Homo sapiens: one gene and its partner. The protein of the gene in region 1 interacts with the protein of each later gene in a pairwise test. Each region holds a gene or a part of one and is shown on either strand. Other genes may lie near its edges.

The links.
Region 2: the proteins of ADO (region 1) and CAP2 interact in binary tests that used the Homo sapiens proteins (3 or more experiments, as listed by UniProt).

Annotation. Positions count from the first base shown.
Region 1 is NC_000010.11:62,803,129-62,807,044, reverse strand, and holds the start of ADO (2-aminoethanethiol dioxygenase), read right to left. Parts: upstream 2,326-3,916; 5' UTR 1,986-2,325; coding exon 1,173-1,985; 3' UTR 1-1,172. UniProt on the Homo sapiens protein: Plays a vital role in regulating thiol metabolism and preserving oxygen homeostasis by oxidizing the sulfur of cysteamine and N-terminal cysteine-containing proteins to their corresponding sulfinic acids using O2 as a cosubstrate.
Region 2 is NC_000006.12:17,536,449-17,540,364, reverse strand, and holds part of CAP2 (adenylyl cyclase-associated protein 2), read right to left. Parts: intron 1,097-3,916; coding exon 907-1,096; intron 1-906. UniProt on the Homo sapiens protein: Involved in the regulation of actin polymerization.

The DNA of each region.
Region 1 (3,916 bases):
GCTGTGATCTTCTGTGCCTTCTATCTCTTCCTAAGGAAAACCACATTAGATGAACCCAGGGCTCAGTCATTTTAGGGAGAGGGTTGAGACAACACTGCCAGCAACACAGCTGGAATCACCCGAGTCGGGAACATTAAAGTTCCTGAGAGAATATGAAACAACTATCAACATAATATTTCTCCCTACTTTTACAGTAAAATATTGGAAGTAAATAAATATAGGGAATGCAACAACTGGCTAGGAGTGTTTTACATTCAGTTGTTTGGAAGCATAACACATTCAGCTCCTTTGAATCTTCCCGTTAGAAAATACAGAATTACTCTATCACCTTTTAAGGTACAGTAAGACAAGAAAAAAAGTCATGTGAGGATAATACAGTCTTTGCATTAAAGGTGAATCTGCAACATGAAATCTGCTCGACTCACAGATCTGGAGATTCATAGGGAAGATAAGCTCTAAGTGACCATGTCACAGAGATATGCAGGTGCTGAATTTCTTAGTAGATGCTGCCTGAGTAAACCAGATGTGGCTACTGGGCAAAGGGAGGAAAGAAAATAAATCTTGTCCTCTACATGCATAGTTATGTTGTGAGAATGATCCCCAAACTGAAAAAATCATTTAGTTTTCACAAGGAATTAATTAGGCAGGCCAGCTCACTTTAAACAGTAGCTCATCTCCTTAAACCTAGTTTTTACCAATGACTTGAACTAAAAACAATTCAAACCACTGGGTCATGCACAGTCAATAAGTTAAAAAACTATAAGAAAAAAAGGCATAAGGGCATGAGTGGAAAATAAACCCTATTTAACTAAGGGGTAGGGAGTGGGAGCAAGAAAACCACTTAGTATTTTGTATAGAATGGGGAAGAGAGGAAGATATTTTCATTATGGCTTTAGGATGGAAGCGCTTCAGATAGTCCCCTGCCCCATTCCTCCAAATCAAAGCCCCAGTGGCAGTGACAGTACCAGGAAACAATCTAGCCTCCCCGCCCACCCCGCCCCCATAACCGTGCCCGGCGGCTGCTGTCCAGTCGCCCGTGCTTCCCAAGGCTGCCGAGGAAGCGGCTGCTGCTCATTCCAGTAGATCCAACGCCCAGGCTAGGGGGTAGAGACACAGCCCTTGTGGTAGGGTAGGGCACGTCTTCGGCCCACCGCTCCTGGGCGCCAGTGGCTTCAAGGGAAGACCTTGGGACCTGGATAGGGTTCTCCCTCGCACCAGAAGTCATCGGCCTGTGGGGTCTCCAGGAGCCACACCTCTCGAGGCAGGTCACAGGCCGAGCTGGAGGCCTCCTTGGGCCTGACCGGCTCCAGCACCCGGTAATAGTGGCAGTCCCGGCCATCGTCCGGGTCGTAGGGCGGGGCCAGGATGTCCAGGAAGGCGGCAGGCCCTTCCACGGCGTCGATCTGGTGCAGGTTGTCCCGGTGCGGTGTGAGGATGCAGGGGCCGCTGGCCTCGGTGTACTCGGCCCGCGAACGCAGCACGCCCGGCCGCACGGCTTCTCGCTCCCGGGGCTGCAGCGGCGGCTCGAACTGCTGCTCGGGCGGCAAGGCCCGCGGCCGTTGCCCGCCGCCCGCGTCTAGCTTGTCCATGCAGCTGATGCGCACGGTGCCGTACAGCACCTTGAGCATGCCGTGCATGCCCGGGTGGTCGTGCAGCGGGATGGACGTGCCGCTCTTGAGCAGGAACACGCCCAGGCTGAAGCCGTCCGTCTCGTAGATGTGCATGTAGGTGACTGGCGGCAGGTTGGGCGGCAGCGGCTGCAGTGTGGCCTTGCGCGGGGCGATGTTCAAGTCCTCGGCGCGGAGCTGGGTCAGGAGGCTCTTCAGCTTGCTCAGGTTCTCGGGGAAGCCCGGCTGCATCGGCGCCTCCGGGCCAGAAGCCGCGTCGCGATCGGAAGCGCCGCGGCCGCCCCCGCTGCCCCGGAAGGTGAGGCAAGCCTGGCGGGCGATCCGTTGGATCAAGGAGGCCATGTTGTCTCGGGGCATGGTCGGCTGCTCCTCTGCGTGCCGGGACCGGCCCCCTCCTTTCCTCCGCCCCTTGCGGTCCCCGGCGGCCGCCACGGCTGCCCCCAGCCCGGGTCGAGGCGGGAGGCCCCGCAACCACCGGCCCGTCGGGCGCGCGGCACCGCCGCCAACCTCAGCAGCCACGCGCCCGCAACTGCCCGGCGCGCTCGCCTTGAGCCCCCTCTGAGCGCGCACGCGCACGCCCCACACCCCGCACTCACGCTCCGGGAGCAGATAGCGGCCGCGCAGACGGTGCCAGGCTTTGCCTTACGCCCGGCGCTCCATTCATGCGGCCCGCACCTACGACGGTGGCCGGGCGCCCGGGGACCCTGCGGAGCATGCCGGGACTTGTAGTCCGGCCTTCCGCTTGAGCTCTGAGATAGTTCAGTTTGTTGATTGGAAAATAGAGGAACTATTACACATGTTGGGCATAAAGCGATCTTTTTCAGGATGCAGAGGTGTTTTTCTTGTTTTAGAAAAGATGAATCGGGGTGGAAGATTAGTAGCCACTTGACTACAACTCCCGGCACTCCCCGCAGGGTGGAGTGACGCACTTCCGTCAGCTGGCCCCCGGAGTAGTGGAGGCTCTTGGCCTTCATAAGGAAAGGGGCAGGGAGGGTCGTTAACCTTCTGGCGCCGCGCTGGGGCCTGGTTAGCCATGCAGGGTCGCCTTCCTTTGGCCTTGCCCCTGGGAAGGAGGCTGTTGAGTCAGCCTTAGCTCCTCGTAGCGGCCTAGGCAGCACTGTCTCCCACGGGAATTGCAGGAGGGCGCTTTTATAATTTTGTGTTTCCTAGGAGGGGAGGGGGTCCAGGCCGTCCTCTGTGATCATCAAGGTTACTCGGCCCAGCTGGGCCCAGCTGGGCCCAGCTGTTGTTTGCATCAGGACCTGATGACGCTGCTCTTCTGGTTACAGAGCAGTATAGCTTTTTGCTGGAGAGACTTGAGAGGCCATTTACAGTGGTCGTGGATTCTGAACATACTAGTGGTTATCAAATCTTGGTTTGCCTGAGAAGGGGGAGCGGGCTTTTATAAATGCAGATTCCCTGTCGTCACCCAGAGATGGAGTTACTAGATGGTTCTGAGGCATCCTAGGAGAAATAGTGGTGTGCAACAGTCAGTTCAGTCAGTAATTGTGAAATTGTTTCACTACACAGAGGCATCCTTCTCCTTGGCGTGAACTAACTTTTGGCATAAGTAAATGACTAGAAAAGCAAGACATTAGATACTATGACTTTAAACTTAACCCTGAGTTTAAAGTCTTTTTGGATTCCAAAGCTGAACATGGGTTTCTTGTACATTTTGTAATTGGAGTGGTTCAGTGAATCCTCTCCAGTTAAAATAGGCATACTTTTTAAAGTGGATTACATAACCTGGCTAATGAGTACTCACAATATGCCAGGCACTGTGTTAAGTGCATTATATAATGAATGTTATACTATTTAATCCTTGCAGCAACTCTTAAGAGGCAGGCACTATTATTATTCCCAGATTGCAGATGAGGGAATAAGTTGTAGGATAGTGAATACTAAGTACCCAGCAAAGCATGAGCAGCAGAGCAGAAATAAGTACAGTCTTACCAAAAACAGCAGCTTGAATTGGTGTAAAAGCACCAAACGAGAGTCAGGATATTGTTGTTCCAGCCTACTGTGTGTACTTACAAGCTGTGTGTCGTTAGGCAAATCCTACCCTTTTAGGGCCTCAATTTATTCATTTGTAGAATGCCGGTGTTAAGGGAACAAAAGTTCTGAACCCTACTCATCAGAACCCCCTGGAGAGCTTAAAAAATAAAGATCTTGGGGTCACACCTCAGAGATTTTGATTCAGAAGAACTGGAGTGAAGCCTATTTTTTTGTGTGTGGTTTTTTTTTGTTTGTTTGTTTGTTTGTTTTGAGGGGTAACAAGGTTTATCGTG
Region 2 (3,916 bases), on another chromosome or scaffold:
TGTCTTACTTCTTCTCTTACGGCTAAATCATTCTCCAGACACAGCCTAAAAGGTTAGGGCATTCCAGTGAGTATATATCAGGATATGGAATTGACTTTACGAATCCATTCCTTTACTTTGCAAATGAGTTTCACAAGGCACAGCAGAACCAGTTGGAGCCAGAGAAAAATTTAGAATTTTGGATTCTTAGCTCCAAGCCCAGTATAGTGGGATATAATTCTTTGACAAGCCTGTACACTGCTTCAGGACAGAGGAGCTAATGTTTGCCACTTTTATTTATTTAGAGACAAGGTCTCACTCTGTCACCCAGGCTGGAGTGCAGTGGTGCGATCTCAGCTCACCGCAGCCCCCACCTCCTGGGCTCAAGCGATCCTCCCACCTCAGATTCCTTAGTAGCTAGAACTGCAGGTGTGTGCCACAATGCCCAGCTAATTTCTGTTTATTTTTGGTAAAGATGGGGTCTCACTATGTTGCCCAGGCTGGTCTTGAACTCCTGGGCTCAAGCAATAGGCCTGCCTTGGCCTCCCAAAGTGCTGTGATTACAGGTGTGAGCCACCATGCCCAGCCTGCCATTTTTATTTTTATTTCACTTGATCTTGATGCCTTGGTTGTGGACAATGATGTGGAAGTACTGGGGTCTAAAGCAAGGATGCAGCACAGTGGTCCATTTAGAACCCAGAGTCTCTGAATACTTCTTTCTGGTCTACACAGTGACCCCCTGAGCCCGTCTGCATGGACATAAGGAACATGGCAGGCTCCTGTCTTCCCAGCACCAGTTCCCCCTCTCCCTGCATGCTGGAGGCAGGGATGGAGTGATGTATCCATCACTGGGGCTCCAGCGGCTCTTTTGTGTCTGGGAGCCAGAGGGAAAGGGAGGCAGCTTCAAGGTCTTCTTTTCTCTCTCACCTTTTGTAATTGCTTCTCCCTGGTTAAGTTGGGCAAATAAAGCTGAGCGTGAAGGAGAAGATTCCTCTTTTTTGCCTTCATTCTCGAAAAGTGGAGGTGGCCCTGGAGGAGGCAGAGGAGGAGGGGGTGGAGGAAGGCCAGGCCCAGAGGAGAGGACAGAAAACGCTGATACTGTGGATGCTACAGGACCCTGAGAAGACAGAAGACAGGGCATTGCATTGCATTGAGACTGCGCCCTTGCTGGGATTTTGCCCGAGAGAGTCGAAACCTGCTGCCAATGAGAGAGTGGGGTTGAAGCCTGAGCAAAGGCTCCCAGAGGGCACACCTGTGCATCATGGGTCTGTTTGGGAGGATCTGAACCATGGCAGCTCCAGCTTGGGAAAGTGGAACATGACTTAGCTGTGTGGCCCCATCAGTAGGATCTGTGCGGCAATGAGCCCTGCTGCCAAATCAGAGGCAAACGAGCCATACTCCCAAGTCCAGGTCCAAGGCTCAGGATCTAAATGACACTGGGCCTTGGCCAATTTAGAATCACAAGAAAAAAGTGATCCAATTGATAAAACGATTAGCTCTTTTGAGACACTGGAAACTGTGACCACCAATGGGGTGTGGGGAAGGGTAAAAATATTCAGTGGTGATTGGATGTTTCCGAACCTTTTTAAGCAGTGAAAGAGAGAGATACAGAAACTCTCTGGACCTGATTTTCCAAATATGCCTGCTGCAAACTGACCCCCAAACAAGGAGCATATGTGACCGGGATGCTTGTCAAACCCGAAGGTAATGAGGGTCCAGGATCCACATGACTTTTCATCAAATGTTGGCTGTTAGTGAACCAACTGAAAATTAGATTCTTCCTGATCCAAGAGCTATGGTTATTCTTATTTTCACTGCTATGTAAAGCACAACCTTTGTTTTCAGTATGAAAGCCTAACAAATTCAAATGGCAATAAGACGTGATAGACAAGAGAGAGACTTGCTTTAGTTCAGTTTTGCTTTTTTTTAAGGAGACAGGGTCTCACTCTACTGCCCAGGCTGTGTGCAGTGGCGTGAACATAGCTCACTGCAGCCCCAAACTCCTGGGCGCAAGCGATTCTCCTGGCTTAGCCTCCTGAATAGCTGGGACAACAGGCATGTGCCACTCTAACTGGCTAATTTTTAATTTTTTTTTTTTTTGAGAGATGAGGTCTCACTATGTTGCCCAGGCTGGTCTTGAACTCCTGGCTTTAAGTAATCCTCCTGCCCTGGCCTCCCAAAGTACCAGTTTTAATATTTTGGAAAATATCCAAAATATTGTATATCTGTGATATTTTCACAGAACTTAAAACTGGTAGGATAGAAACACACATATACCACAAACTTGGCCTATATACTGTTTTACTTTTATTTAATTTTGAGATGGAGTCTTGTTCTGTTGCCCAGGCTGGAGTGCAGTGGCATGATCTCGGCTCCCTACAACATCAGTCTCCCAGGTTCAAGCAATTCTCCTGCCTCAGCCTGTTGAGTAGCTGGGATTAAAAACATGCACCACCAAGCCCAGCTAATTTTTATATCTTTAGTAGACACAGGGTTTTGCCATGTTGGTCAGGCTGGTCTCGAACTCCTGACCTCAAGATTATCCACCCGCCTCAGCCTCCCAAAGTGCTGGGATTACAGGTGTAAGCCACTGTGCCCGGCCCTGTTTTACTTTTGAACCCTCAAGTAGAACTGTATACCTATAATAGGGAACTATAAACAAATTAAATAGTCACGAAGCTTAAAAAATTGCGAGTAATGGAAATGTGGCTTGGACTCATCAATTTTCAATATCAAATATGAAAGGTAAAACATTACGTAAGTGCCAAATATTAATGAAAACAGAATATCCTTATTGTCATAAACAATTTAGTATTATGCAGTATCAAAATCAGCGATTCTTAATCTGTAGTAGTTTTCAGTTAAAAACAAAACAAAACAAAACATGCTGGCTCGGGCATGGTGGCTCATGCCTGTAATCCTAGCACTTTGGGAAGCCGAGAAGGGTAGATCGCTTGGATCACTTGAGCCAGGAGTTTGAAACCAGCCTGGGCAACAAAGTGAGACCCTGTCTCTACAAAAAATACAAAAAATTAGCTGAGCATGGTGATGCATGCCTGTAGTCCCAGCTACTGCGGAGGCTGAGGTGGGAGGATCACCTAAGCCTGGGAGGCAGAGGTTGCAGTGAGTTGAGATCACGCCACTGTACCCCAGCCTGGAAAACAGAGAGTGAGACCCTGTCTCAAAGCAAAACAAAACAAAACAACACAACACGCTATTTTCAAAGCACTTATATAATTCCTATTAAGTGTAGAATTACCCTGAAAATAAAATATAATTGTCTTATTCAGAATGCATGTTTTAGAAACCCTGCAGGCTGGAGGGCTCATCTCCTGAAGATTTAATTTGCAATAGTCTTTGTTTCTAAGAAAGAGCAGCCTAATTCCATCAGGTTTCTTAGGTCAAGTAGAAAATGATTTCACAGTTCCTGAGACTGACCATTTTTCTCACCAGTATTTGAAATGTTTTCTATGTTACTGGGATAAAATTTGAGAATTTGCTCTGAATCAGAAAGAGAGTATAATATAAGCTTTGGACATCAAACAGTATTCTAGTCCTCAGACACTGAGAACCACGAAGTATTACTTTTACTCATAAGCACATCATAACTCATACAGCCGGTGAAGGGACAGCCCCTTCCCCCAACATCTGAAACACTGCAGCTTTATAGTCCTATTTTGTGTAAAGGGAAGATGATGCTGGCTTCTAAATCTTAAAATGATTTAGATGGTTCCCTAGCTCTCAGAATTCAGAGACTCTCTCTCCAAGAGCCATTAAAGGACACTGAAACTAAAAAGCCACATATTCAACTTTTTGGAACTTTGATACATTCAGATGGCTGGCCCAGGAACGCGAGACAAAGCATTTAATGCTACAAAGTTGAAAATAAAAGCCAAAAAATAAGGGAACTCAGGACCAGTTGAAACTCCATCTTGGT